Regions from separate parts of the Homo sapiens genome. Here regions 1 and 3 are each linked to region 2. Evidence: fine-mapped expression QTL. A gene starts in region 2. Each other region holds a variant in brackets. All regions are shown on one strand. Distances are between the middles of the regions.

Evidence for each region. PIP is the estimated chance that this variant, and not a neighbour inherited with it, causes the effect.
Region 1: its variant is fine-mapped to the expression of CXCR6 in whole blood (TOPMed, PIP above 0.99).
Region 3: its variant is fine-mapped to the expression of CXCR6 in whole blood (TOPMed, PIP 0.94).

The regions. Positions count from the first base shown.
Region 1 is chr3:46,070,132-46,078,766 of GRCh38, forward strand. It overlaps a transcript of XCR1 not described here. Among named protein-coding and RNA genes, the nearest start is that of XCR1, 47 kb to the left of the region's middle. The variant C/T (reference allele first, on the strand shown) is at 3,261.
Region 2 is chr3:45,938,854-45,946,853 of GRCh38, forward strand. CXCR6 (C-X-C motif chemokine receptor 6) reads left to right here and starts at 4,611. Exons shown (of 2, transcript NM_006564.2): 1 at 4,611-4,687; 2 at 7,608-8,000. The coding sequence starts at 7,629. The region is part of intron 14 of FYCO1 (FYVE and coiled-coil domain autophagy adaptor 1); the gene reads right to left.
Region 3 is chr3:46,218,963-46,227,597 of GRCh38, forward strand. It overlaps a transcript of CCR3 not described here. Among named protein-coding and RNA genes, the nearest start is that of CCR1, 15 kb to the left of the region's middle. RefSeq lists an enhancer at 2,706-2,875. The variant G/T (reference allele first, on the strand shown) is at 4,165.

The DNA.
Region 1 (8,635 bases), 130 kb after region 2:
TATGATCTGAGAATATACTTGATATGATTTTGATCTTTAAAAATGCATTGAGACTTGGTTTGCAGCCTCACAGATGATCTATCTTGGAGAATGTTCCATATGCTGATGAGAAGAAGGTATATTCTATAGTTTTGAGTGGAATGTTCTGTAAATGTCTATTAGGTCCATTTGGTCTAAAGTCCAATTTAAGTCCAATGTTTCTTTGTTAATTTTCTGTCTCAATGATCTATCTAATGCTGTAGGTGGGATGCTGAAGTCCCTCACTATTATTGTGTTATTGTCCATCTCTTTCTTTAGATCTAGTAATATTTGTTTTATTAATCTGAGTGCTGTGGTGTTGGCTGCATATATATTTAGGATTGTTATATTCTTTTGTTGAATTGATCCCTTTATCATTATATATAATGACCCTTGGGTTTTTTTAAGGTGTGTTTTATCTGATACAACTATAGCTACTCCTGCTTCCTTTTGGTTTCTGTTTGTGTGGAATATCTTTTTCCACCCCTTTACTTTCAGTATATATGTGTCTACCAAAAAGTTGAGTTCCTCGTAAGCAGCATGCAGTTTGATCTTGTTTTTTTAATCCATTATGTCAGTCTTTATCTTGTAAGTGGAACATTTAATCCACTTACATTCAAGGTTAATATTGATATGTGACATTTTGTTCCTGTCATATTGTTAATTGTTATCTAGTTGTTTTATCAATTCTTGGCTTTTTCTTCCTTTGTCTGTTGTCTTTGTGGTTTGGTGGTATTCTGTCATGTTGCCATTTGATTCCTTCCTCTTCCTCCTTTGTGTAATTGTTTTATGAAACCTGTGAGTTTTTATATTCTCATGTGGTTTTATGATGGTGAATACCAACCTTTTGTTTCCATCTTTAGTACTCCTTTGAGCATTTCTTGTACAAAAGAAGAGAGGAGATCCAAATAAACATACTCAGAAATGAAAATGAGACATTGCAACTGATACCACAGAAATACAAAAGATCATTAGAGACTATTATGAACAACTATATAGTCATAAACTAGAAACCTAGAGGAAATGGATAAATTCCTGGAAATATACAGCCTACTGATATTAAACAAGGAAGAAATAGAAATTCTGAACATACAAATAACAAGTAATGAGAATGCATCGATAATAAAAAAAATTGCCAGATTTTTTATTCCAAAAAATCCCAGGCCCAGGTGGCTTTTTTTTAAGTTTCAAAAAAAGGCCAGCACCAGATGGATTCACAGATGAAGTCTGCCAAATGTAAAGAGAAGAACTGTACCAATCTTCCTGATACTGTTCTAAAAAATTGAGGAGGGAATTCACCCTGACTCATTCCACAAAGCCAGTATCACCCTGATACTAAAGACAAGGATACAAGAAGAAAAGAAAACTACAGAGCAACATTCCCCGTGAACATAGATACAAAAATCCTCAACAAAATACTAGCAAATAGAATCCAAGAGCATATCCAAAAGATAATACAGGATGATCAACTGGGTTTTATTCCAAGGATACAAGGATGATTCAACATATGCAAATCAATACATGTGATTCACCACATAAACAGAACTAAGGACATAAGCCATATGATCATCTCAATAGATATAGAAAAACCATCTGATAAAATTCAGCATCACCTCATGATAAAAACACTCAACAAACTAGGCACAGAAGGAACATACCATAAAATAATAAAGCCCCATATATGACAAACCCATAGCCAACCTCATACTGAACGGTGGAAAGTTGAAAGCATTCCCTCCAAGAACTGGAACAAGTCAAGAATGTCCACATTTACCACTCCTATTTAACATAATACTGGAAGTCCTAGCCAGAGGAATGAGGCAAGAGAAACAAATTTTAAAAATCCACATTGGAAAAGAGGTAGTAAAATTATTTCTGCTTGCTGAGGTTATGATCTTATATCTAGAAAATACTAAATCCTTTAGATTTAATAAATGAATTCAGTAAAGTTTCAGGATACAAAATCAACAGACAAAAATCAGTAGCATTTCTATAAACCAATAATGATCAAGCTGAGAACCAAATCAAGACAGCAATCCCATTTACAATAACTAAAATTAAAACAACAACAACAACAAACCACCTTAGGCTGGGTATGGTGGCTCATGCCTGTAATCCCAGCATCTTGGGAGGCTGAGGTGGGCAGATCGCTTGAGCCCAGCAGTTCGAGACCAGCCTGGGCAACATGGTGAAATCCTGTTTCTACAAAAAATACAAAAAATTAGCTGGGCATGGTGGTGCACACCTAGAGTCCCAGTTACTTGGGAGGCTGAGGTGGGAAGATTGCTTGAGTCTGGGAGGCAGACATCGTACCAATGTACTCCAGCTTGGGTGGCTGAGAGGGACCTTGTCTCAGTGAAAATAAAACAAATAAAAACAAAACAAAAAATCCTGGAAATAAATTTAACCAAGGAGGTGAAAGAGCTCTACAAGAAAAGCAGCAAAACACTGATGAAAGAAATTATAGATGACCCAAATAAAAGGACAAATATCTCATGTTCATGGATCAGAAGAATTAATATTGTCAAAATGACCATACTGCCCACAGAAATCTACAGATTCAATGCAATTCCTATCATTAGAAAAATGATGTTGATAATTTATTGGAATTAGAAACAAATTCTAAAATTTGTATGCAACCAAAAAAGAGCCTGAATAGCTAAAGTATTCCTAAGCAAAATGAACAAAGCTGGAGGCATCACATTATCTGAGTTCAAATTATACTACAAGGCTATAGTAACCAAAACAGCATGGTACTAGTATAAAGGTAGACATATAGATCAGTATGACAGAATAGAGAACCCAGAAATAAAACCACATATTTAGAGACAATTGATCTTTGACAGAGCTGACAAAAACACACACTGGGGAAAAGATACCCTGTTCAATAAATGGTGCTGGAAAAATTGAATTGCGATATGCAGAAGAATGAAATTGGAACCATATCTCTCACCACATAAAAAAATCAACTCAAGATAGATTCAAGACTTAAATATAAGACTCAAAACTATAAAAATACTAGAAGAAAACCTAGGAAAAACGAGACATTGGTATAGGCAAAGAATTAATGACTAATATCTCAAAAGTACATATGACAAAGACAAAAATAGACAAGTGGGACTTAGTTAAACTCTTCTGCACACCAAAAGAAATAAATAACAGATGCTGGGTGCAGTGGTTCACATCTATAATCCCAACACTTTGGGAGGCTGAGGCGGGCAGATCACTTGAGGCCTGGAGTT[C/T]CAGACCAGCTTGGCCAACATGGCAAAATCCCATCTCTACTAAAATATTAGCTGGGCATGGTGGCACACACCTGTAATCCCAGCTACTTGGGAGGCTGAGGCATGAGAATTGCTTGAAGCCTGAGAGCCGGAGGTTGCAGTGAGCTGAGATCATGCCACTGTACTTCATCCTGAGAGACAGAGTGAGATTCTTAAACAAAAAACAAAAAACAAAAACAACAGAAATAAACAACAGAGTGGACAGAGAGCCTGCAGAATGGGAGAAAATATTTGCGACTTATGCATCTGACAGGGGACTAATATCCAGAATTTACAAGGAATTCAAACAACTCAACAACAACAAAATACAAATAACCCCATTAAAAAGTGGGCAAAGGACATGAATAGACATTTTAAAAGAAGATATACAAATGACCAAAAAGCATATGAAAAAATGCTCATTATTACAAATCATCAGAGAAATGCAGATGAAAACCAGAACATGATACCATCTTACACCAATCAGAATGGCAATTAAAAAAAAAAAACCCAACAGATACTGGTGAAGATGTGAAGAAAAGGGAACTCTTATACATTGTTGGTGGGAATGTAAATTAGTACAACCTCTTTGGAAAATAATATGGAGATTTCTCAAAGAACTAAAAGTAGAACTACCATTGAATCCAGCAACCCCACTACTGGGTATCTACCCAAAGGAAAAGAAAATAGTTATATCAGAGATAACTTGCACATGCATGTTTATCACAGCACAATTTACAATATATATGCAATGGAATTATTATTCAGCCATAAAGCAGCAACACGAATGGAACTGAAGGCCATCTTTTTTTTTTTTTTTTTTTTTTTTTTGAGACAGGGTCTCTTTTCTGTTGCCCAGGCTAGAGTGCAATGGCACAATCATGACTCATTGCAGCCTCAACCCCCAAGGCTCAAGTGATAGAGGTCATTATCTTAAGTAAAACAACTCAGAAACAGAAAGTCAAATACTGCACGTTCTCCTTCATAAGTGGGAGCTAAATAATGTATACACATGGACATAGAATGTGGAGTAATACACACTGGAGACTCAGAAGAACGGGAGGTAGTGGTGGGGGGTGAAGGATGAGAAATTATTTAATGGGTACAATGTACATTATTTGGGTGATAGATACACTAGAAGCCAAGACGTCATCATTATGTAATATATCCATGTAACAATGCAATTGTACCACTTAAATTTATATTTTAAAAAAAATCATAAGGAAGAAAAATATATTTACTATTCATTATGTGGAAGTAGGTCATCATAAAGGCTTTCATCCTCATTGTCTTCACACTGAGTAGGCTAAAGGAGGAAGAGGAAGAGGAGGGGTTGGTCTTACTGTTTCAGGGGTGGCAAAGGTAGACGAAATTTTGGATTTAAGTGGACCTTCCCAGTTTAAACCCATGTTGTTCAAGAATCAACTGTACTGTGAACAACTCTACACACATAAAACTTGTCAACTTAGATGAGATAAACCCACTCTTCAAAAAGCACAGACTACTATAACTCATCTATGAAACAGATAATTTGAATAGCCCTGTAACTACTAAGGACATTGAATTCATAATTAAAATCTCCCAAGAAAAAAATTTCCAGGCCCAGAGAGTTTAACTGGAAACTATTTCAAATATTTAAAGAATAATTAGCACTTTGAAAAGGAATGAAATGGGAAGAATCACTCTACCCAATTTTAAGACTTATTTCATAGCTATAGTAATATGTGATATTGGCAGAGGGACAGACACAAAGATTAATGGAAGAGAGTTAAAAAAACCCAGAAGTAGCCCCACACAAGTATGGCCCACTGGTTTTTGACAGTGGTGCCAAAGCAAGTCAATGAGGGAAGGATAGTCTTTTCAACAAATAGTGCTAGAGCAACTAGATGCTCATAGACCAAAAAAAAAAAAAAAAAAAAAACAACAAAAATCAAAACCAAGAAACCTCAATCTAAACCTTTGACCTTATACACAAATTAACTCAAATTGGATCATTGATATAAATGTAATGGATAAACTATAAAACTTTAAGAAGAAAACATAAGAGAAAATCTTTGAGACCTAAATCTTGGTGAAGAGTTCTTGGACATAACACCAAAAATATAATACATAAAAGAAAGAATAGATAAACTATTAAAATGAAAAACATTTGCCCTGCAAAAGGCCCTGTTAAGACCATCTCCAGAATGGGAGAAAATATTTTCCAACCACATATCAGACAAATAGCTCATGTCTAAAATATATATAGAATCCTCAAAATTCAACATTTAAAAAGAAAACAAAACAAACAAACAAAAAACAACCAATTCAGTTAAAAAATAGGAAATGACTTGAAGAGACATTTCATGGAAGAGGATTTTTCAAATGGCAAATGAGCACATGAAAATATATTCAATGTCACTAGCTACAAGGGAAAGGCAAATTAAGACCATGATAAGATATTATCACATATGTATCATAATAGTTAAAACAGTAAAAATAGTGGCAATACCAAATTCTGACAAGGATGTGGAAAAATCTAGATATCTCATACTTTGCTATCTAGTTTGGGGAATGTAACATGGCATAGCCACTCTGAAAAGAGTATAGCAGCCTCTTAAAAACCAAGCACGCACCATATGTGTTAGTCAGGGTTCTCCAGGAAAAAGAGCCAACAGGATAGATAGTGCTGGCCTGGGCCACCAAGATTTTTTAACAGTCACCTTCCAACCCTGCCCCAAGTGATTCCATGAGCAGCTAAGATTAAGAACCACTGCCCAGGGGAGACTTGGATTTTGTATGCAAAACAATTACTCCATGTGGTCCTACAATTTAGGCAAATTTGAAAGATACCCTTGTCTCTACCATCTGACATACCACCCACACTCAGCACTTGGCCAGCTCTGGGAACCCCTTGTATTCTTCTGGCTTTGAGAGAAATTGTTGAATGTAAGGTATGAGTCCTGCTGAAATCTGGGCCGTTCCTACTTCTTGGCTGAATATTTTGTCTGAGCTGGCCCCACATTGGCTCAAGTAAAGTCTTCAAAATTATTAATATATTTTGTGCCTCAGCTTCCTCAGCTGTAAAATGAGAAAGACACTCATCTTGCAGAGTTGAGTGCTTTAGATGTGATGTTGGTCAATGATTGCCATTTTGTAGAAGCTTAACAAATGGTAGCCATTATTTTGAAAAAAAAAAAAAAAATAGGATATCATTGAAATCAGCAGCAGCAAAGTTAAAAGACAGAATTGTGGCTCCTGTTTAGTTCACATATTTCCCTGGGAAGGAGGAAAGTTTCTATGCTGGGGCATAGAAAACAAGGGGCTATACCTCAATGGTCCCAAACTGACCTTATCAGGTTGGCCTTCTTGATAGTTTCACTTTCCAGATGCTAGAGAAATTTGCTGTGGGCCACTGCCCTCTATTGAAGTAATATTGTCACTTCTGAGGAAAGAATACTTGGACTTGCCATAGGAGAAGTCAAGGATTGCACTTGAATTTCATCTCACTGGGGTAAAGCTGACCCCTGTGTGAGCACTGAGAGAGAAAAGAAACTTTTTATGTGAGGAATACAAACCCCTTTAATATATCCAGCCCAGAAAGGCTTTGGAGTAAAAAGCTGTCACATCTCAGTCCCTGCTTGAGCTAAGTAGTTACCTCTTGAAGCCACTTGCTGTGGGCTCTGGACTAACTGATGCCACGTAGCTATAAAATGCCATATACCATAATCATGGATGCCACAACTCATATCCTCTAGCTCAGGGGTCCTCAACCTCTGGGACGCAGACCAGTTAGGAACTAGGCTGCACAGCAGGAGGTAAGCAGTGGGCAGGCAAGTGAGCAAAACTTTATCTGCTGCTACCCATTTCTAGTATTACCACCGGAGGTCCTCCTCCTGTCAGATCAGCAGCAGTATTAGATTCTCATAGAAGTGCAAACCCTATTGTGAACTGTGCATGCGAGGGACCTAGGTTGCATGCTCCTTACGAAAATCTAATTCCTAATGATCTGCCACTGTCTCCCATCACCTCCAGATGGGACCATCTAGTTGCAGGAAAACAAGCTCAGGGCTCTTACTGATTCTACATTATGGTGAGTCATGTATTTCATTATATATTACAATGTAACAATAATAGAAATAAAGTGCACAATAAATGTAATGCACTTGCTTCATCCCCAAACCATCTCCCCTACTCCTCCTAGGTCTGTGGAAAAATTGTCTTCCATGAAACTCGTCCCTGGTGCCAAAATTTTGGGGACCACTGCTGTAGCTCAACAACATAAAGCCAATCACTAATCAATGTTATTTCTGCAAACCAATGAGAATTCCTGTCAAATAGCTTTGTATCAGTCCACTCCTTGCTCACTTTTTGTCTTTAAAAACCTGCCTGAATGGATGCAGCTGGAGACAATTATTCTAAGTGAATTAACACAGGAACAGAATACCAAATACCGCACGTTCTCACTTATAAGTGAGAGCTAAACATTAGGCACACAGGGACATAAAGCTGGGAACAACACACATTGGGGACTATTAGAGTGGGGAGAGAAGGAAAGGGGCAAAGACTGAAAAACCACCTATTGGGTACCATGGTCGCTACCTGGCTGATGGCATCATTTGTACCCCAAACTTCAGCATCATGCAATATAGCCATGTAACAAACATGCACATGTAACCCCCTGAATCTAAAATAAAAGTTGAAATTATTTTTTAAAAAGCCTGCTCGCAACAAAGGCTGGATGCGGCACTCCCCAAAGCAACTTGGAAGTGTGTCCTGAGCAGCTGGCCTCATGTTGGCTCAAGTAAAGTCTTCAAAATTATGAATATATTTTGTGCCTCATCTTCTTCCTTTGGGGTCAGCATTTTTGGTGCCATGAGAAGGATTCAGAATAACCCCCTTGGCTCTACTATCTGACTTACCTCCCAGACTCAGCGCCTGGCCAGCTCTGGGAACCTCTTGTATTCTGACTTTGAGAGAAATTGTTGAATGTAAGGTATGAGTCCTGCTGAGATCTGGGCCTTTCCCATTTTTTGGTTGAAGGTCTAGATTTTGCCTGAGCTATGTTTTCCGATCCTCCCTTACTAGAATGGGAGTTTTCCATCTGTGCCTAATGGGCAGGAGATTTGGGTTCCAGAAAAGAAAAAGGGTAGGGGGAACAGCGTTTTTTCACCTCTGCCTTGGGGAAGGGAGGTCTGGGTCCAGGCATTGGCAATTTGACATTGGTGGTTTTGCTTTACATAGCACGCTTTTAAAATTGCAGCTGCTTCCTATTGTTTGAAATTCAGACTTGGATGTTTCATCTGTGACCAATTCCTATTAGTTCTAAACTGAAAAGTGCATGAGAGTGAGTTCTCTTGCTATGGAGAAAGGGCAGT
Region 2 (8,000 bases):
ATTTCTTACCATGAGATGTTGTAGGAAATGTTCAAGCAACTCAGAGGATGTCAAGGGATGTAAGAGCTTGAGAAAGGACAGCAACCAAAGCATGACCACTAGAGGGCACCCCACCTCCTACTACAGCTGCTTCCTTTCCTTGCTATTGAGGCAGCCTCAGCAAAGATACCAGATACTCACTGCCCACGCGGCTTTCCTCCTCCCCTTGCTCTGGTCATGGCAGCCTACTGCTAGCTTGGCTGATGGCATGCCACCCTTTCCTTCCGAGTTTCTGTCTGCAGCCTGTGGTCAGTTGAGTGAATATCTCTTGAGCACATGTTCTAGTCCGTCAACTTGTCTGTCCCTTTGTGGGTGCCATCCTGGCATTCCTGGGCAGCCTGCTGTGCACACAGCCCATGCCCAGTGAATATCTACATTATTTGTCTCAGGGTAAGGTTTTCTTCTGTCCCAAATGCTCCCAAAGGAGGACATACCCAAGGCTCCACATTAGAAGCGAGTCAGAATAAAGTGGTGAGCACAAATCAGGCAGCCCCTGGCACTGTAGTCCTGGAGTCCACACCTCTCTGAGTCATGGTGGAGCCCCTTCAGCTTGGTGTCTACAAATGGGAGTCTATAGTCCTTCCCTGTCACGACTCAAATGGCCTCAGCCTGTTTGTTATGTAATTACTGCACAACTTTAATCCTGCAGACTGCCTGCAGTACAGATCTGCTTGTTTAGAAACTAGCTGAGGGAGGAACAGATGCCTGGAAAATCCCTATGGCCCAAGGTGCCTTGCTGCCAATCTTCCCCAGAGGGTGCCATCTCCCCTCAGCCTCGCTAAGCCCCGCAGAGTGAGAAGTGTTGTTTTCCTGATTACACAGGCTCCCATCGTCCCTCTGGTCAGCCTCCATTTGTGAACAGTCTCCTGTGAAATGGAGATGTCTTCAGTTTAGAACTGCACTCTTCAATACAGTAGCCACTAGCCATATGTGGCTATATAAACTTAAATTCATCAGATAAATTTAACTAAAAATGTGGCTGCCTGGTGGCATTAGCCACATTTCAAGTGCTCAATTCAAGTGGCACTAGCCACCTGGACTGGTGGCCACTGTGTTGGGCAGTGCAGGTACAGCACAGGTCTCTCACAGCAGAAGGCTCCACTGACCAGTGCAGGTTTGGAAGGTTGGGCTGAACCACACCACACACATCATATTCACTCTGTGATCTGGGGGCATCTTTAAATTTTGCTATCAAATTATTATTATTGTATTAACTTGATTTTACTTTGCTAATCCATTGCTTATAAATTCCTAGTGTTAGAGTAGGTAGCTAGGCAGACATGAGCAGGGCAGGAGAGGGCCCCCCTCCCCCAGGAATGTCAGGTGACCATCAAGTAATGGTCAGGCAATTGTTAAGCTGTCTCTCTAAAATAACTGGTTGCAGCCAGAGCCAGAGAAAGAGTCTCCCAATAGATAGAAAACATCTGAAGCTGGTAATCAGCAGCTTCCTGACAAGATCTCAGGAGTTGGGCGAGTGGGCTCAAGCACGCACACTAAGAGGCAAAATGGCAGTTTAACCGGTATGTGACCTTCCTCTAGAAACGACTGATAAGGGAAAAACACCTCAAATGAGCATGCATACACCTCCAGTAAACAGTCTGAGCATGCAGCTCCTCCCAAGTGCTGGCAAGCCACCATGCCTGCGGACAGCCTGCTCCAAGGGAAGAGTCGGGGGAGAAGAAACATAAACCCTGGAACCATGCCAATGTATAAAACCTCAAGTCAAGGGCCGGATGGGGCACTTGGATCTCTCAGGTCACCTGCTTGGCTCTCTTCCAAGTATACTTTACTTCCATTTGTTCCTGCTCTAAAACTTTTTAATAAACCTTCACTCCTGCTCTAAAACTTGCCTCAGTCTCTCCCTCTGCCTTAAGCCTACTTCTGCCCCTCGGCCAAATTCTTTCCTCCAAGGAGGCAAGACTTGAGTTGCTGCAGACCCATATGGATTTGCTGCTGCTAACATACTTTGGTGCCACATGACTCAGACACATTCCCTAGTGGTAAGACACTCCTACAACTCACCTTCTTCCGCTGGAGGTAGTCAACCCCTGTACGCGGTTTCCTTCTCCTGCTCTCCTGCTTATAGAACAATTGTTCCTCCAGAACAATTCCTCTCAGCCATAGTGGCTCTGCTCCCACCAGATGATCTCTCAGCTCATCCTGGTGACTTGCAGGGGTACAGGTCTGCCGGCTATGTTGCCCAGGCTGGCCTCAAACTCCTGGCTTCAATGATCCTCTCATCTTAGCCTCTTGAGTACTGGGACTATAAGTGCCCACTGCCACGCCTGGCTGGTTAGGCTACTTTTCTGTGGATCACAGCCCATCATCCACCAATGCCTTGCCAACAACTGTAAATGTCTCATCCCTGAATCCTGGAACTGATAACAGCTCTGCCAGGTCTTCAGGTAAGGAGAGCAGGCCAACAGTCTGACTTCCAAGATAAATCTGCAGCAGGTATGTCTGCCACTTCCTTTTTACTCTTCCCTCAATTTTATTTAGAAAATGTTTAGGTATTTCTGGGGAAATCTAAGACATATATGATTGGGTTCCCACCCTTAGGAAGTTCAAAGTTTTGTTTCAAATAAAAGTAATGCCCTTAAAACAATTAACACTATAAATTGGCAGATAGTAAACGGCATTTTGTAAAGTGATTAAAATAAAATTTTAGCCCCAAACCTGCAAGTGGCTCAGCTCCTCAAATTTAGGTGAAAGTCTTTTGTACTATAGAGAAGTTTCTATTAAAGAATGGCCACGATAAACAAGCCATGCTTTCTCAAATACACATATCCCCATATTGACATGTACACACAGTCATGGAGGGCCCCAGGTGCTGGCTTGTTTTTCCCCATGGAGTAGAAAGGCTTGCTGAGAAAAGCATGGCCAAGGGTGCTTGACAAGGCTCAGGCCATTCTAACACTGCCCTATGGACCTGTCTTGAATGGCATGGTTGGTTGTCCCTGGGTAAAACTCAGCTCTCAAAGCTTAAAGATTCCTAAATGTCAGGCAGGGTTACATTAAATTGCCACCCTGCCTTGAAAGTTCTCTTTCAGGAAGACAGGTGCATATTTGGCTCAGTCTGTTCCTTTATTCATTTGTCCACCATTCCCTACATCCATCTGTCCATCGGTATGTAGTCTATGCGGCCTCATGGTTCATGCCCATAAGGAACACCTCACTCATTTGTACCAGTTTGGTAGAAAGGACAGTCTGAACGAATTCATTCAAAAAGGCCTGCAAACCTACTAGAGGTCTTCAGATCTTTTATCAGGGCCCCCTGGCACAGCTCCATACTCAGAGCAGGGCAGGAAGCACTGGCTTTGCAGCCTGACAGTCCTGGGTGACTGCCAGGGATGTGTGTTCTTGGGCAAGTGGGCTAATCTCTCTAATCTTCTGTTTGCCTATCTGTACGTGACTAGGATTAGATGGCTGTACATAGAAGCATCCAGCATAGGGCCAGGCTTGCGGTAGAAATGAGTGTTAGTCTCTGGATCCTGAGGCTGCTCCTGGTCCCTGCTCCCAATGCTTGACATTTGCCCTTAGGAAGAGCCACATGAGAAGGTTTGCCTAGCAGGTGGGAGAGAGCAACAGCATTGGAGAGAAGCAGCCTGAATGGGAGTGCAGAGCCAGAGAAGGCAGGCCAGGCACCTCCACAAGAAGGCAGCTGCTTCTGGGAAAGCAGACATCGAGTCCATGCCTCTCCCTAGTACCCTCTCCACTACAAGGCACTGGGGCATGTGACCCAGGCTGACATGCCTCCAATTCCTGCCTTCCAGCGTTATTTCCCAGAAGGGTCAGTAATGTTAGATCATGGAGACTGACAACTAGAACTGTACTGAGATCAAAGTAGTCAACATCTGGGGAATTCCAGGAGTACAGAGGGCAGCCCAAGGAAACCAGATGATTCCAGCCAGCCTACGCAGGGTGGGTGGGCACTGCCTGCTGAGTGCCTGAGTGGTGTGGGCTTAGGAGGTGGGGCTGCACCAGGCCCTCTGGCAGACCCATCATCATGCTGTTGATTGGTCTGGTAATGACAGATACCTGAGTGTGTATCTTCGATTTTCCAGTTTCTAGCTGTGTGCACCAGGGCTTGTTATTTTGGCTATGGTCCTCAGTGTTCTCATCTATAAAGGCAGGATAATATCCACTGCAGGGCTGCTATGGGGCTTAACAGCTATCACATATGCTGGAGCTGCATATGCACGCAGAACCCAGCCCATACCATGGACTCAGCATTGGCCCAGACCCTAACTGTTCCAAAAAGATGTCTGACTAGTGAATTAAGTAATTTTAAGGTACAAATGCCACCATCTTCGGTGGATGGCCAGAGCCAAACCTCCTTATTGTTCCCCTTTAGTTTACGAATAAAGCTCGTCAGGCCCTGACAGAAGAATCAGCCCCAAAGCAGAATGAAGGGAGTGTGGGGTATCAGTCACCCATCCATCTCTGACCCACGCGTTACACAGGGGCGGGTTGGTCATATGGATTCTGATCTGAAGGACGGGAGTAGGGGGTGGGTCTCTTATAGTAACCAGCTGAGGGCTCTTAAAAAATGTTCAGCGGAAACATGAACCACATCACAGAAGTAGAGGCAGACCTTGCTTCATGAGCAAGCTCATCTCTGGAACAAACTGGCAAAGCATCTCTGCTGGTGAGTCATTTGTTTTACTCTTTATATTGAAAAGAAGACAGGGAGGACTAACCCCAGGTATTGTTGGTATTCTCAGATTCCTGTCTGTAGTAGGGTACAGTGCAAAATGCCAGGCTATGGAGCTCAGCTGCTCTTCGTTCAAATTCCATCACTGCCATTTGCTGCTGTGTGGGTTAAACTGGAGAAACATGAAAACTACTGAACATGTTTCCAGGCACACAGTTAGTGCTTGCAGGCTGATGGTACTGCTAGTAATGGCATAGTCAGACCCACCCAGGGAGATAAGGAGAATCTAGTTATTGTCTATATTTGCTCAATGAATAATCTCTGTTTTCATTTCTTTTGCATAAGACAGGCTGTTTTATCAGATTATCATTTATGTTCTTTTTTCAATATAAATCAACATACTACTGTAGAAACTTTGAAAACTATTTTAAAAAAAGGAAGAAATAAGTCACCCATAATTCCACCAGCTGGAGGCCAACTGTTAATAAAATGTGATCATTTTTTCCAGGTTTCTAAAAGTACGGTCAGTTAAAATCACATAGTTTATCATGAACTCTTATGTGAGGGCCCACAGAATACATGGCAGAAGGATTCAAGGGGTTCATGGACTCCCAGAATTGTAGGGGTGTTTGTGTGTGTGCGTGTGTGTCTGTGTGTGTGTGTGTGTGTGTATATATATATACATTATTTCTGAGAAAAGGTCTGCAGTTTTTAGGAGATTCTCAAAGGAGTTTATGGTCAAAAAAGGTTAAGAATCACAATTTTATATCCTTTTGACATCTATTTGTTGTAATAGTAATAGTTAATACTTATTTTGCATATTTACTTTGTGTTTACACTGTTCTTAGCAATTTAACTGTATTGCATTTTCCAAAATCAGTAAAAATACTTCCTAAACATTTAAGTATATTCTATTTTATGTATGAATTGTAATTTGCTTCATCATTATCAGACTTTTACACTACTTCCAAAGTTGTAGATTTTTTTTTTAATTTTCAGAAAACAAAATAGGATTTTAATTATAGAGGATAAAGAAATGAATGTTTTTAGTTCGCCTAGAAGGGAAAGTAATTTTTCATACTCTATTTGCACAGCACTGTCCAGGCCCAATCTGTTTACCAATTATTATACATCAAAGTTTACCAATTATTACACATGAATTTGCACAGGTCCTTTGAGGAAATGTGTAATGGCAGCATAAGGGACCAGCAAAAGCTGGAACAGGAAGATACCAAAAAAAGGCGAGAGCGAGTCAAGCAATAATGGGGAGCTGAACATTATTCTTAAGAGCAAAGCCACCTGTTTCATATTTTAAATGATGAAAAAATATGTTTTTGCCCATGTGAATCAATAACACATACACATCATCTGACCTACTTAATACAGTGCCCCAGAGAGCTTGTGGGGGGCAGGATGTCTACTGGCTGACCTATCACCCTTAGAGATCTAACAATTGTGACGTAAGGGCAAGGATTTTTATTAAGCAGTCTTAGCCCAAAGGCAGCATCCTTCCTTGCTAGAGAGAAAGGGCACTTTGGTCCCTGGAAAGACAGAGGCAAGCAGCAGCATCGGAGACACTGCTCCCAGTCAGGACTCAAAGTCAGCGACAGAAGTGTTTCTGAGTGGATTAGGAAAGGTAACCTCATCGTTTATATGCACTTGTCTGGTCAGGCAATATTTTGACTTTGCTGGCAGAGATTCTGTCCAAACACCTGCTCTTCTTCATACATCTTCTAGAGGTGCTGGCCAGACATGGCTCCAGGTCACTGGAAATGAGCTGCTGCATGTTGAGTATCTGCAGTCCTGTAGCAAGGGCAGACTTGGCACTCATGGGCTGATGTTGCCGCAGCTGCCCCTGCTCCCACACCACAGGTTACATGATCCCTTGTCCTGTCCATGGTCTTTGGCAGGGTCACAGGGCAGAGGGAAGGGTCAGAGAGAAGTGACATCTTGAAGGGCTGGTGCCCTGGGTAAGAAAGGTTGCCCATCTGGCATCCCATTTCAATTGGGTTTTCTGCTTGTTAAATGAGGCCCCTAAGTCCTAACCTGCCAATCACAGGAGCTAAGGCAAGGTTCCGCTTTGGGGAAATCTACCTTTTAAGAGACTTCTTGTTCAGAAGTCTTCAGGAAATGAGGCTCTGATGGTAGAATGCCATAAACTGTGTTAACTGATGAAGGGGAAAGTTTAGTTGGGAAGTGAGGAGAACCACCCAATGCTTTAACCATGAAGCCAGCTCAGCCAAAGTGCTGGGCAGTCGTGGGCTTTTCTATGCTTTGTTTCCCCATTAGTAGCCTTTGAAAATCTATGCAATTGAGGGGAAGTAAAGGCAGGAAGGACTACCTACCCAGGCAGAGCAGTCTTGCCATCCCCAAACACCTGTGGTCTCCAGGAGTCTCCTTGATAGGAGAGCCCCCTGGTAGGGGCACTTGCTTTAGCTTTCACAATTTATTAGGAAATGGGGCTCAGGATGGGTGGGCAACTGTGGTGAGGCAGGGGGAGATGAAAACAGGCATGTTCCATTGATGAGCTCATATTATCAGTGGGCTCAACCATCCATCATCAGTGTTGCTCTTCCAAACAGCACTGTGCCCACCTGGCAGCAAAGCGACTTTTGGTTTCAAAATAATTGAGCACAGGATTTTATGGAATGTGCTTAGGGGTCAGTTATGAGTTGTCTCCCAGATGGGTGAGATCCTGAGAATTTTCAGGCTAATGGAGAGTCCTCATCCTGTCTGAGCAATTTCCCCTCAGAATTGGTTATCTTCAATATACTGGACTGTGCTGTTTCTACACATCCCAGTGGGTGGGTTTAGAAGATGACTATTTGCCCCCTAAATGTGGTCAATGGGATAGCAGGAAGACAAAGAATGCCATCCTCAGCCCCAAATATAATTCCTGGGTTCTGACTCACAGGTGTTCATCAGAACAGACACCATGGCAGAGCATGATTACCATGAAGACTATGGGTTCAGCAGTTTCAATGACAGCAGCCAGGAGGAGCATCAAGACTTCCTGCAGTTCAGCAAGGTCTTTCTGCCCTGCATGTACCTGGTGGTGTTTGTCTGTGGTCTGGTGGGGAACTCTCTGGTGCTGGTCATATCCATCTTCTACCATAAGTTGCAGAGCCTGACGGATGTGTTCCTGGTGAACCTACCCCTGGCTGACCTGGTGTTTGTCTGCACTCTGCCCTTCTGGGCCTATGCAGGCATCCATGAATGGGTGTTTGGCCAGGTCATGTGCAAGAGCCTACTGGGCATCTACACTATTAACTTCTACACGTCCATGCTCATCCTCACCTGCATCACT
Region 3 (8,635 bases), 280 kb after region 2:
GGAAGTTCTAGCCAGAGCAGTCAGACAAGAGAAAGAAACAAAGGCCATCCAAATTAGTAATGAAGAAGTCAAACTGTCGCTGTTTGCCCATGATATGATCACATACCTAGAAAACTCTAAAGACTCATCCAAAAAGCTCCTAGATCTGATAAAGGAATTCAGTAAAGTTTCAGGATACAAAATCAATGTACAAAAATCAGTAGCACTGCTATACACCAACAGCAACCAAGCTGAGAATCAAATCAAAACCTCAACCCCTTTTATAACAGCTGCAAAAAATAATATTATAAAATACTTAGGAATATACCTAATCAAAGAGGTGAAAGATCTCTACAGGGAAAACTACCAAACACTGCTGAACGAAATCATAGATGACACAAACAAATAGAAACACATCCCATGCTCACGGACAGGTAGAATCAATGTTATGAAAATGACCATACTGCCTAAAGCAATCTATAAATTCAATGCAATTCTCATCAAAATGTCATCATCATTCTTCACAGAACTAGAAAAAAAATCCTATAATTCATATGGAACCAAAAAAGAGCCCACAAAGCCAAAGCAAGACTAAACAAAAAGAACAAATCTGGAGGCCTCATATTACCCAACTTCAAACTATACTACAAGGCTATAGTTACCAAAACAGCGTGGTACTGGTATAAAAATAGGCACAGGCAGATAGACCAATGGAACAGAATAGAGAACCCAGAAATAAAGCCAAATACTTACAACCAACTGATCTTTGACAAAGCAAACAAAAACATAAAGTGGGGAAAGGACACCCTTTCCAACGAATGGTACTGGGATAATTGTCAAACCACATGTAGAAGAATGAAACTGAATCCTCATCTCTCACCTTAGACAAAAATCATCTCAAGATGGATAAAAGACTTAAATCTAAGACCTGAAACCATGAAAAGTCTAGAAGATAACATCAGAAGAACTCTCCTAGACATTGGCCTAAGCAAAGAGTTCATGTCCAAGAACCCAAAAGCAAATGCAACAAAAACAAAGATAAATAGATGGGACTGAATTAAACTAAAAAGCTTCTGCATAGCAAAAGTAATAATCAGCAGAGTAAACAGACAACCCACAGAGTGGGAGAAAATCTTTGCAAACTGTGCATCTGACAAAATGGTGAATATCCAGAATTTACAAGGAACTTAAATCAGCAAGAAAAGAACAAATAATCCCATCAAAAAGCGGGCTAAGGACATGAGTAGACAATTCTGAAAAGAAGATACACAAGTGGACAACAAACATATGAAAAAATGCCCAACATCACTAATTATCAGGGAAATGCAAATCAAAACCACAATGCAATATCATCTTACTCCTGCAAGAATGGCCATAATTAAAAAATCAAAAAATAATAGATAATAATAATAGATGTTGGCAGGGATGTGGTGAAAAGAGAATATTTTTACACTGCTGCTGGGCATGTAAACTAGTACAACCACTATAGAAAACAGTATGGAGATTCCTTAAAGAACCAAAAGTAGAACTACCATTTGATTCAGCAATCCCACTACTGGGTATCTACCCAGAGGAAAAGAAGTCGTTACAATGAAAAAGGCACCTGCACATGCATCTTTACAGCAGCGCAATTCACAATTGCAAAAATATGGAACCAAAGTAAATGTCCGTCAACTAACGAGTGGATAAAGAAAATGTGATATACATATACCATGGAATTCTACTCAGCCACAAAAAGGAACAAAATAATGTCATTCCCAGCAACCTGGATGGAGTTGGAGACCATTATTCCAAGTGAAGTAACTCAGGAGTGGAAAACCAAACATCCTATGGTCTCACCTATAAGTGGAAGCTATGCTGTGAGGATATAAAGGCATCAGAATGACATAATGGACTCTGGAGACTTAGACGGAAGGGTGGGAAAGAGACAAGGGATTAAAGACTACACGCTGGGTGCAGTGTACACTGCTTAGGTGATGGGGGTACCAAAATCTCAGAAATCACACCTAAGGAACTTATCCATGTAACCAAACACCACGTGTTCCCCAAAAACTATTGAAATAATAAAATAAAATGATGCACATGAAGAATTTAGCAAATAATGTAAACTCAACAAACTCTGTTATTATGGTTACCTAAACTCTGTTAGACCCACCTTCGCCTTAGTGATATTAAGTTCACAACTTGAACTTGGCCACGGAGAGTATTTACACCAAGGAAACTGGAAATTGATGCTATTATATCAGGCATGTTGTGCCTGTTTTGATTCTTCCTCCAGAAAGCTGGTTGTTAACATTTACCAGCACACCATTGCAGAGTACCTATAGGCCATGAATGTACAGGGAAGATGTTTGCATTTCTTTCATCTTAAGTCTTCAAGGACAAATGGATCTGACAACAGCAACAAATACTGTATCTGAGTTTATATAAATCTTTGGTTTCAGCAGAAATAGCTTTTACTTGAATATCTGCTCTTCCCACTAGCAGCTGGGGCCTGATTCCCTAGTTGTAGGGGTATTCCTGCACATGCAAGATGCACCCCTCACATGCCCCCCGCAGCCCAATCCTTCACAAAGAGAGGTCCTGACCTTGGCTGGGCTATGTTTCAAGTCACACAAACAGTTCAAACCACACGGCTCTGCCTGCAGTTGAGGCATCTTGAACCCAATTTGCACTTCCCTTTTCTAGACTTTTAGTCTTATTCCTGTCTTCCTTTTCCCTCTGTGGGTTATTCTGCGGGGTGGGCTATTTTGTTTTGCTTAAGCCTTCATTTTTGAGCTTGCTTTCCTCCAAGAACCCCTGGCAGGTTTCCGGTTGTTGAAATGCACATTCACTTCTTCCAAAGGATCATCCTGTGTTCTTTTGCCCCTTGCAAAGCAGACCTACCCAAGACCACTGAAGACAAAGAAGGGGGTCCATGAAGGAGTGTGTCTGGGCCCCTGACTGGCCGCCACCCCTCACTTAGCTCTGCCTGCCTTTCCTCTTCCCGTGTGCCCCCTAGTCCCTCCCCAGCCCCTCTCTTGCCACTGCTGTCCACACAATTTCCCACAGGCTTCCTCCACACAAACTGGCACTGAAGATTCCCCCTGAGGACTGGGCAGGAGCCCTGAAGGTCAGATAGGCAGGCCTCCCAGGCTGTCCCACTCTCTAGGACAATAAGGCGTGACACTCTCCACATCAAAGGACCCATGTCTGAATTCCTGTTTCAGAGCAGTGAGACAGAGGAAGCAGGACCATGTATCATGCCACACCACCAATCCATATCAACACAGCAGCCACAGAGTATGGCACACCTAGGGCATTCCTGGATGGCCATGGTGGAGGTGGGGAGATGGGGGTTTCATGGGGATAGATGAACTTCTAGCTAGACTGGGCAAGTGATGGGTCCAGTATGATAATCTGGAGAAGTTACAGGGGCTGACAGGCAGCCTGGTTGCGTTACTTTCTCTTATTTAATTTGTCGCCCTCTTGCTGCTGCCTTGCCTCTGAAGCTACCTATCAGGAAGCCCTAGGATTCTTCTTGAAGGGTACTGCCAGGCTAGTAGAGAACTCAGGAGAAAAACCTCCAGAGTCCCTTAATCTTTCAGGGCCCCACCCCACAGATCTAGTGCCCTAGGTCCTGGGCTCTAACTTCAGACATCATGCATGGCCAGGCATGCTGCGCTCCTCACCTTGTTCAAGCAACAGACAATGGCAGCACCTTGCCACAGGCAGCAAGTCCTCCAGCACACCAGACCTGGCACAGCCCTCAGATGCCAGCCATGCCACCTTGGGCATTTTTATTTACCGCTTGTCAGAACCTCAGCTTCCCCACGTTTAAAATAGTGAGAGTAATATTTCTTTCTCAGGATTGTTGCAATAATTAAATATGATTCAATATGTGTCTGGCACTTGGTAAATGTTCAGCCGATGGGAGCTACGTGGCTATTTATTTCCTCATCCTATGCCTCAGTCAAACTGGTAAACATCTGTTGAATGTCTCCTATGTGCAAGAAAATTGTCAAGAAACCCTTCATGCTAAAAAGGGGAAGGAGAAAGTATATTAAGGAAGTGCTCTAAAAACTCCCTGTCCAGGTCCAGCCCAAGTTAACACTTACAGTCTTGCATGCCAAGTTTTAAAACTCTTTTGAGGCCAGGTGTGTTGGCTCACGCCTGTAATCCTAACACTTTGGGAGGCTGAGGTGG[G/T]TGGATCATGAGGTCAGGAGTTCGAGACCAGCCTGGCCAATGTGGTGAAACCCTGTCTCTACTAAAAATACAAAAATTAGCTGGGTGTGGTGGTGGACATCTGTAATCCCAGCAGAGGGAGGAGAACTGCTTGAGCCCAGGATGTGGAGGTTGCAGTGAGCCGAGATCGTGCCACTGCACTCCAGCCTGGGTGACAGAGCAAGACTCTGTCTTGAAAACAAACAAACAAACAAATAAAATCTCTTTTGAGTCTGGGCTTACATACAGTCTAATACACAGCATTTTATATCATGTTATCTGTATTACATCTTTTCTCTCCAGCTAAATTGTAAGCTTCTCAGCTGCTGGGCCCATGCCCAATCCTTTTTCATATGTTTTCCACAGTACCCAGCACTGAGATGCATATATATAAGAGGTGGTCAGTGTAAGGACTTGCTGATTAAAGTTGATGCTTGTGTGTGTGCATGCATGTTGTGTACATGCATGCAGGTGTGTGTGTGCATGTATGTATGTGTGACTATTGATAAGTACAGTTTGACCTCTTTTATTCAGAGTGACATTATCACGTGTCACTTGTATCAATCTGTTTTCCCTTTCAGCCTGCCTCAGTTTCAGGAAGCAAGAATTCTTTTGGCTCCTGACAAAGAAGGGAGAGAGACATTTTAGATCCCATGGCTTGCCTGAAACTTGGCCACGGACAGGGTGCTGGTGCAGGTATGGGACATGGATAGAGGTACTAGAGGACAGTGGATGACTTGAGCAGGTTCAGAAACATAAGCCCAGAGGTGTCGGTAAATAGAGTCTCCATCGGGTGTGATCAGGGTGTGCCAGGAGCTGGGTAGAAAGCAGCATGAGTGCCCACAGCCAGAAACAGCTCAGGGAGAGCTCTTTCAAATAAAGGGATGCATATACAAAATCGATTAAATACTCCTGCCAGTTAATAAGAAAAGGACCAATGGCCTCTTGTTTTTTAAATAGGCAAAAGACTTGATTAGAAACTTCATAGATGAGGATATCCAAATAACTAACATGTATGTGAAAATGTGCTCTGCATCACTAATCATTTGAGAAATGCAAATTAAAACCACTGGTTTTAATGAGACGAACCAATGAGACAGCAGCACATAACCACCAGAATGGCTAAAATGAAAAAAACGCAAAACAACATCAACAAAAAACCAAACCCTGGGCCAGGCACGGTGGCTCACACCTGTAATCCCAGCACTTTGGGAGGCTGAGGCAGGCAGATTACCTGAGGCCAGGAGTTCAGGACCAGCCTGGCTAACACCAACATGGTGAAACCCCATCTCTAATAAAAATACAAAAATTAGCTGGGCACGGTGGCTCACACCTGTAATCCCAGCACTTTGGGAGGCTGAGGCGGGCAGATTACCTGAGGTGAGGAGTTTGAGATATCCTGGCCAACATGGTGAAACCCTGTCTCTACTAAAAATACAAAAATTAGCCAGGCATCGTGGCACACACCTGTAATCCCAGCTACTTGGGAGACTGAGGCAGCAGAATTGCTTGAGCCTGGGAGACGGAGGTTGCAGTGAGCCGAGATCATGCCACTGCACTCCAGCCTGGGCAACAGAGCAAGACTCTGTCAAAAAAAAAAAAAAAAAAAAAGCCATCAACAACAAAAAACAAACCCTGACAATAGACAATACCAAGTATTAAAAAGGTTATGAGGCAATGAGAACTCTCACACCATGCTGGTGCAAGTATAAATTGGTACAACCACTTGAAAAATTGTTTAGCAGTATGTAAAGCTAAACATGTGCTTTCCCTGTGACCCAGCAATTCTACTTCCAGGTAAATACCCAAGAGAAGTGCACATAAACCCAAAAGATGTGTTCAAGAATGTTGTTAGTAACTTTATTCATAATAGTCTCAAACTGATAGTCCAAAATTCTTATCAGTAGTAAAACAGATAAATTAGTCATATGAGAGAATACTATATATAGTAATATAAAAGACCAAACTATTGCTACTGCATGCTACATAACCTCATTTATAATGAATTCAATAATGGTCAAAACTGATCAGCAGTGATAGAAATAAAATAGACATGACCTCTATGGAGGTGGGTACTGACTGGGAAGAAGTGCTAGGGAACATTCTGGGGTTCTAGTAATGTCTTGACTGGTGGTTACATGGGTATGTGCACATGCAAAAACTTAAGATTTAGGCATTAACTCATTAGGCATCTTACCATCTCAATCTTTAAATCTTTGAACATTTTTTAGGTAAATTGTCCATGGCATGGTGGCACCTGCCTGTAATCCCAGCTACTCGGGATTACCCAGCTACAATTGCTGGGTTGTATTGTAAGCACGAATTTAGTTTTGTAAGAAAGTGCCATGCTCTTTTTCATAATGGCTGTATTATTTTATGTTCCCAGCTGCAAAGTATGAGTGATTCATTTTCTCTGCATCCTTGCCAGTGTTTGTTTTACTATTCTTTATTTCAGCCATTCTGATAGGTATGTAGTAACATCTCATGGTAGTTTTAATTTGCATTTCCCTAAAGACTAATGATATTGAACATCTCTGTATGTGCTTAGTGGTTATCTGTATATCCTCTTCAGTGATATGTCTGTGCATATCTTTGACCATTTTCTAATTGGAATTTTTGCTTTTTTGCTTTTGAGTTTTGAGAATGCTTTATATTCTAAACAAATATTTTGTTAGATATGTTGTTTGCATTTTTGAGTTACTTCTTGTATAAGGTGTGAGGTTTAGGCTGAGGGTCATTTTGTTTTTTGGTTTATCTACGAATGTACAATTCCTCAAGCACCATTTTTTGAAAAGACTATCCCTCCATTTAATGGCTTTACACCTTTGTCAAAAAACAGTTAAGCATATTTGTGAGTCTAGTTCTGAGTTCTCTATTTGTTCTTTGATCAGTATGTCTATCTCTCTGCCAATATCACTCTATCTGGATTACTGTAGCTATATAATACGTCATGAAATCAGGTAAGTGATTCCTCTCACTTTATTATTGTTTTTCAAAATTATTTTAGCTATTCTAGGTCCTGTGACTTTCCATATAAACTTAAGAATAATAAGCTTACAAATGGCTATAAAAATTTCACTGGAATTTCTATAATATAAATTTCCCTAAACCTTGGATTAATTTGGGGAAAATTGACATCTTTACTGTTGAGTCTTCTAATCTATGAACATGGTATATCTCTCTATATTTATTTAGGTCTTCTTTGATTTATTTTATCAGCATTTTGTAGTTTTCAGCATGCAAGTCATGTACATACTTAGCTAGAGTTATACCTAAGTATCATCTAAAAGCTTTTTGGAGCAACTGAAAATGGCACAAAAATTGTTAATTTTGGCTTCCACATGTTCCTTAGTACATATAAATGTGATTGACTTTTGTTTCCTGGTTTTGTTCCTGCAATCTTACTGACCTTGGGATTTTCTATGTAGACCGCTATGTCTTTCCTAAATAATAGGGACAGTTTTATTTCCTCCTTTCCAATCTGTATGCCTTTTATTTATTTTTCTTGTCTTACTGCACTGGCTTAAACTTCCAGTTGAATAGGAGTGGTGAGAGTAGACGTCCTTGCTTTGTTCTTGATCTTAGAGGAAAACATTCATTCTTTCTCCATCAAGTATAATGTTTTCTCTAGACTCTTTGTAAATGCTGTTTATCAAGTTGAGGAAGTGTCTTTCTATTTTTAGTTTGCTGAGTGTTTACCATGAATAGGTGAAATATATATATATATATATTTTCTTTTTTAATTGAGATGGAGTCTTGCTCTTTTGCCCAGGCTGGAGTGCAGTGGCATGATCTCGGCTCACTGCAACCTCTGCTGCCCAGGTTCAAGCGATTCTCATGCCTCAGCCTCCTGAGTAGCTGGGACTATGGGTGCATGCCACCATGCCTGGCTATTTTTTTATTTTTCGTATTTTTAGTAGAGACAGGGTTTTGCCATGTTGACCAGGCTGTTCTCAAACTCCTGACCTCAGGTAATCCCAGCCCCTGCCTCAGCCTCTCAAAGTGCTGGGATTACAGACCTGAGCCACCACGCCCAGCTGAAACATTTTGTTAAATCACTCTGTCATAGATATTTTATCTATGTCAATATTCAACAAACTAGTTTTTCTGAATTGTTGAATTTATGATAATAAAGTAGTTCATAGTATTCTATTATTATTCCTTTTAATGGCTGAAGAAGCTGTAGTAATATCCCGTTTTATTTCTGATATTGGTGATTTATGTCTTCTCTTTTTCTCTTGTATGTCTTGCTAGAGGTTTATCACTTTTCTTGATTTTTTTGAAAAACTGGCTTTTTGTTTCCTTGCCTTTTTTTCTCTTGCATCCCTTGTGATGGAAGTTTCTTTGATTTTTATCTACTGTTTTTCTGTTTTCAATTTTATTTATATTTTCTCTTTATTTTTGTCTCCTTTCTACTTGTTTTGAGTTAATTTTGCTCTGCATTTTCTGGTTT